Homo sapiens: one gene and its partner. The protein of the gene in region 1 interacts with the protein of each later gene in a biochemical or structural test. Each region holds a gene or a part of one and is shown on either strand. Other genes may lie near its edges.

What was found. The genes of interacting proteins can lie anywhere in the genome.
Region 2: the proteins of KIF20A (region 1) and CDC14A form a complex in vitro, tested with the Homo sapiens proteins (one study listed by BioGRID).

What each region holds. Positions count from the first base shown.
Region 1 is NC_000005.10:138,185,168-138,188,223, reverse strand, and holds the end of KIF20A (kinesin-like protein KIF20A), read right to left. Parts: coding exon 3,027-3,056; intron 2,713-3,026; coding exon 2,514-2,712; intron 2,264-2,513; coding exon 2,172-2,263; intron 1,931-2,171; coding exon 1,793-1,930; intron 1,129-1,792; coding exon 811-1,128; 3' UTR 501-810; downstream 1-500. UniProt on the Homo sapiens protein: Mitotic kinesin required for chromosome passenger complex (CPC)-mediated cytokinesis. Following phosphorylation by PLK1, involved in recruitment of PLK1 to the central spindle. Interacts with guanosine triphosphate (GTP)-bound forms of RAB6A and RAB6B.
Region 2 is NC_000001.11:100,355,506-100,359,005, reverse strand, and holds part of CDC14A (dual specificity protein phosphatase CDC14A), read right to left. Parts: intron 1-3,500. UniProt on the Homo sapiens protein: Dual-specificity phosphatase. Required for centrosome separation and productive cytokinesis during cell division. Dephosphorylates SIRT2 around early anaphase.

The DNA of each region.
Region 1 (3,056 bases):
CGGACATTTGGAAATAACATTGGTGATTATACAGACAAGAATAAACTCACTTCAAGCTGGTCTGTTTTAATAAATTTTCAACGTAATTGTCTATTTTTTTCCCTCCCATCTGCAACAGAATACATTTTTTTCAGCCTTTATCTAGATGAGGTAAAGGGAATCATTCTTATGGTGCTCTTGGAGAGTTTCAGGCCTGTGCATGTGTGTACAGCAGGAGGTAATATGCTATAATGTCTGCTGTAATATATTTGCACAGTAGATGCTATGGATCATTCTGAGCTCAGGGTCCAGACTTTATTCTTATTCCCAGAATTTTGTGTTACGTTTTTACCTCCTAACATATGACACTTCATCTTATATTAAGGAAGGTTTAGAATATCTAATACGACTTGAATTCATTTGTTACTAAGCCTTCTCAGGCAAGCTGTATACTAGTTACTGGTCTCCACTGCCATGCCTTTTCAAGGTTCCCATGGTCCAGAATGATGTTTGATTCTTAATTTTTCTGTCCCTTTTATAATTTGTTTTAATGATTTTGCTACATTTGGAATTCAATAAAAAATGTGAACAATAATATCTTTAATATAACTGTTTTTGTGTGCATAGAAATCATATAAGTAAATAAAAAAAAACAACAACATGAGATTACATAGGTGGTTATAATACAAAAGTGAGAAAAAAGCTAGTGTCTGAGTATTGCATCCTGGATATAATTCCTGATATATGGTAAAGCATAAAAGAGACCTATTTCTTCAGGAGAGTAGCTGACCCACCTCAGGGCCATGACTGCTCTTCTCTTTCCCCACAGCCTTAGTACTTTTTGCCAAAAGGCCCAGATTTGAGTAAAGGGGAACGCCGTGAGCGTAGGATCCGGGCATAAGGGCTGCAGTCTGTTGAGCTTTGGCAGGTTGGTGTTCGGGGAAGTAAATTTCGAAGGAATGGTTTCTTCCCTGGTGGTTGTTGGTTTGGTTGCTGATTTTCCTGGTTGGTACCAAGGCGCTTTTTGGCAGAAACCTGGCCTTGGAGTTTCAACACAGTATGATACTGCTCAGCAATACATGCTGCCTTCTTCCGAAGGTCCAGTTTCACTAGCACCATGTTGTTCTGCAGTTCAGCCAGAGTCTGGTCCTAAGGAAGATCAATAAAGTTATAGAAAACACTTTTGTCTGGTATATTAGAGAAACGAGAGGGCTAAGGGTAATACATACCATCCATTACTAGTTACTAACAACTGTTTCTTCAAAGATTAAAACTCTTTAAGGTCGGAGCTTATAACTGAATAAGGGGACATTTTCTGAGAACAAAACATAAGCAGTGCTGAATAGGACATCTTCTAACACATAAGGTAGTATGAGCTTGAGTAAATTTAATTTCTAAGTGCCTCAGTCTCTAAATGTCAAATTAAATGTTGAGTTTAGTTTAAGATACACAATTTTAACATTTTAATCTCTTTGGAATCAGGATGCATCTTACTGATGAGAAATTGTTACTTTTTTCTTAGTAGTACATAAAATAATGGTTTCTTATAATCAGTAGCATCTTAGATGAAATATGACAGTAACTACCTCCCTAAGGTGGTTGTGACAGAAAATGCCTATAAATTACTTAGCACAGTGCCTGGTACTTAGTAAATGCTTAACAAAGAATAGTTATTTTTATTTTGCAAATATACTGCTCTCACTATAAATTCAGCCTAAAAATCTTTACCTTTTTCTTCTGGTCCTCTTTCCTTTCTCACATATACACTGGAGTGGGCTGGTAGGACAGAAGTGGGTATATAGTTTGCCCTAACCTGTTTGATTAAGATGTCATCACAAGTGGTCAAGGCTTGACGAAGTTTTCCTGCCCCAGTGCTGTGGCAACAAGCTCTCTCTGCTGATTGGAGAGACTCACCAAGTTTCTGAAGCTCTGTCCGCAACAGCCTTATATTCTGAAAAAGGGGAAGTAGGAATCATATTGTGGCCAAGAGCAACCAGGATAATGATCTGGAGGGGTCAGGTAGCCATTTGAAGAGAAGTAAAATTAGAAAGGCTAGTCAGCTGAGTGAAATAGCCACTCTCCAGAACTGTGCACAAAAAACATCTTGTCTTCACATGAACCAGTGATAGAGTGTTGGATGTGGGAAATTGCCTTAGGTAAGAGTTTGGTAAACAGAGAATGGTGGTAATTACCTTCTGGCCCTCTTCTAACTTCTTGTCCACATCAATGGTGAAGGGCTTGGCTGAGGGTGGTGGTTCTAACATTTTCTGATACTTATGCAACTCTGAGGGAAGGAAACAGGAAACTTAAAATATGTGGGGTTTTTTTAGCCTTGGACTAACCTCTTTAACTGAGGTAACAGTAGCTTGCAGCAAATATAAAAAGTGAGGCTATGTGTATCCTAGATTGAAATGTCAGGGGGATGTAGCTTGCAGTTTAGGAAATTATGTTAGAGCAGGAGTTAGAAGGCCTGGGTTTAAGTAACAGCTCTTCCCTGAACCACTGTTATGTTTCCTGCCTGTCTCTTTCCTCACCTTCAGTGGTAGAGTTTAGCTCTGCTTTGCACTGCTGTAATTTAGCTTTAACCTCCTGAAGCTGCTGGGTGGAGGCAGAAGCTGCCAACCTTTGTGACCGCCGTAGGGCCAATTCAGACCCTGATTGCTGATGGGCCACTGACTGTTGTCTGGCTTCCTGCAAGAGAGCTTCTAGCTCTTCAATCTTTTCATCCCGCTCCTAAGAGGGAAGCAGAGAGCACAATTCTTTGCAGAGCCAGAAAAATATTGCTAAGACAGATGACTGAACAAACAAAGCACTTGTGACACTGATCCCTTGAAAACCTGTTGTTAGCACTTAATACGATTTCCTGGCCAACTAAACCCTTAATCAATTCACCAAACATAGATTGAACCCAAAGCACTATGGGGAATAGAGAAAAGGGAGTTATATATTCCTGCCCTTACTGGAGTAGTTTATAAAATCTCTTTACTTCAGGCAAGCTAGTGATGGAAATCTGAGCAGCTAATTGGAGCTGGCTCAGGGCAACTCACCTGAATCTCTTCTTGGTAAAAACTTGTCAG
Region 2 (3,500 bases), on another chromosome or scaffold:
GTATGTGTGTATATGCTTAAGTGGCATTCAACCTTCCATTAAATTATCCTACTTGCTATACATTTAATTTGAAATAAAAATTTAAAAACCAAAAGGGTTTCTCCTGACCTACCTCTAACCTAAATATGCATTCCCACAAATATTTCTAGGCAAGAGTAGTTTTTCCATGCTTCTCTCATAAATATTCTATGTTCACATTTTGACTCAAAACTATGCTATAGACAAGATAAAAGAAATCATTTTTCTATAAATTACTTATCCAAAACTTCCTGGATGCATTAATATCAGGCTGCTTTAATTAAGTTTAAATGAAAATTGAATGTTTTAAATTATTTAAATCTTCCATTTAGCTAATTAGTTCTCATTAGAGGCTGCTCATTCTTAACATGCTAAAACATTTGGTGAAATTCTTCAAGTCACTTCAGAAACTGCTTAAAATTCAGTCCCTAGAGTTTCTCCCTAAAGAGCTCTTTCCTGCACTTTCAATACCTTTCTTCACAACTCAAAAAGAGAAGAAATGACAATGGACAGGCTGAAAATGAAGACCCTATACACTATCCTTCCCAGCAAACTGGCTTTCTATGCCATGAACATCCAACCCTACACCCATGACCACCACTAGGAGGGGCACACAGATGTCATAACAAGTAATATATTTCATTTCACTAACTTTTTAGCCACACAAAAGTAAGCCAAGTTATTAAAAGTAAGCGCCTGTTTGGATTACGGGGCCCAATTCCAATACCAAAGAACAAGCCTTTCCAGGGAGTGGTGTGTTATTTGTAGCTTAATCAAATGCAGATAAATCTTCTTTGAAAGGCTCCCTTTTTGTGGAGCTATTTTTGTACCACTAGTGTGTTAGCCTATACTTTGATTTTAACTCTGACCTGTGAAATCATAACCCAAGGACAAAGGATGATTTCTTATCATCCTCATTTTATTAAAGCTGCCCAGGCCTTTATAGTAATAAGTTCTGTTTTAAAAAATCAAGCAGATAATTCAAACGTTCACTTTTAATAGCCTTACCTCATGAGGCCACCTCATTAAATTTTCTCCACCAGCATCTCAGAAGGTTGACATTTCAATCATGGAATGCTGTCCTCCTTTCATAACTAAAGAAACATCTGCGCAAAACACAGCTGTGGCCAGAATATCCACAGCCTAATATTTAAAGAGTCTACTTCCTGATTCAAAAACAATCGCTTCTAAGGTGATAATTTAGCCAGAAAAGCAGCATTTCTTTCTTTTTTTTTTTTTTTTAAGAGATGGGGTCTCACTATGTTGCTCAGGCTGGCAGGCTGGCTTTTCAGTTCAACTGCAGGCCTCAAGCAATCCTGTCGCCTCAGCCTCAAGAGTAGCTGGGACTACAAGCACACCCAGCTGGAAAAGCAGCATTTAATTTAAACATTCAGCAAATAATTACACAGTACAAAGGCCTGTGTGATAATGAATATAAATATATTCTTCTCCTCAGAGACATGCACATTATGATGTGATAGTCAAAATCTTTCTCGCTGTAGGACGTCCTCCAGACAGAGCCCGGGTTACTAGACATCCTTCTAGGGGCTTTGCAGTCTCTCTCATTCTATACTTCCCCAAAGTGGAGCTGACGAGATGGAGTCAGTCCTTCTCCCTTTCTCCTTTCCCCTTCAGTGTTTGTCCACCTCTTTGTTGCGTACTTCCACCTTCCCTTGCTCCTCCCATCCTGGTTCTACTTGTGAAATACAGACCTTGAGACCTTCTCTATCTTCCCAGAAATCGCATCATTCTCACAGCTTTATTAGTCTCTTTGGGAAAATTCCCAAATTTAAGAACCTCAAATGTATGTGATATCTAACAGTGATGTAAATATCCCTTAAATTTCTTAAATTCAATCTGGCCAAAATGGAATGCCTGATCTTCCCACCAAAGCCAATTATTCCACCCTCCTTCCTTATTTCAGTTAAGAGCTCCAGTAGGCTCACCACAACCTAAGCTGTCTTAAGGACTTCTTTGATCCCTCTTTTTCCTCAGCACCCCTCCACGCCACCCTCCTGTGTTGCCAGGTCACATGGCTTCAGATCGCTTCTTTCCATCACCATTGTCACCATCCTAATCCAGGTACTTGTTTCTTTCCCCTGAATTTTTTTTTTTTTTTTTTTTTTTTTAGACAGAGTCTTGCTCTGTAGCCCAGGCTAGAGTGCAGTGGCGCAATCTCAGCTCACTGCAACCTCCACCTACCAGGTCCTGGTTCAAGCAATTCTCCTGCCTCAGCCTCCCAAGTAGCTGGGATTATAGGAACACGCCACCATGCCCAGCTAATTTTTGTATTTTTAGTAGAGACGGGGTTTCAACATGTTGGCCAGGCTGGTCTTGAACTCCTGGCCTCGTGATCCACCTGCCTCGGCCTCCCAAAGTGCTGTGATTACAGGCGTGAGCCACTATGCCTGGTCCCCCCTGAATTTTTTTAAGTGGGCTCTTATCTCCTTAACAACCCCTCTTAAATGATGCTACTGTATTAATTTTTTGAGAAGGATATATGTCCTCTGCAACTAGATGACTTGGTTTCAAACTCCAGCTCTGCTACTTTTACTTCTGTGACCTTGGGCAAGTGACCCAGCTTCTCTATGCCTTTTTGTACAATAAGGATAATAGTGCCTGTCTCACAGAATTGTTGTGAAAACACAATGAATTAATAGTTATAGAGCACCTAGAACAGCATCTGGCACACATTTAAATGCTCAATAAATGTTTCCCATTGTTTGTAATTAGCACAAATCAAGTCATACCATGGCTGCCCCAAATCCCTCAAGAGTCCCATGGTGTACCAAAGAAACTGCAGGTTTCTCACCCTGACATTCATTCTGTCCCCAGCCAACATCTCAATTTCACATTCTCCATCCCCTACATGTTCCCTGAATACACACCAGGCAAACTGGAGGACTTACTGTTCCCTGAACACACGTCCCAAGCCTCTCCCCTCCTCACACTTGCTGTTTTCCAAGATCCCTCCTCTCATGTCTCTGCCTGATAAGACCTTGTCCATCCTTCAAGCCAATCTTAACTCTTCCACGAAGCCTTTGCTGAACGCTTCCACCAGATGTGCCCCTACCTGCCTGTGAATGCCTCTCCTAGCATAGAGGTTGTATTTCTCTTTGGGCAGGTATCTTTCCTATACCTCAAACTGCAGTTCTGTTATTTTCCCTACAGGCTTGGAGCTCTTTGAAGGTAACATATGCATTCAACATTGTTTTATTCTCTGCATCACCTAGCACCATGTAATATGTTGGGGTAACAAAAAAGATGGAGTTGGAGGTGTCAGAGCCACAGCCATTACTGTGGCACAGTAGGGTAAGTTCAAACTAAGAAAAGTACACACTCTGCCCAGGCTGAAGTCCTCATCGTATTTCAAATGTCAATCCCAACTCACAATATAAATTGGATGGATTCTCCAGCAAGTCTTTCCTTATAAGATACCAGAAAAACAGTAGACTATAAGAGGAATATGATTTGTAGGCCTA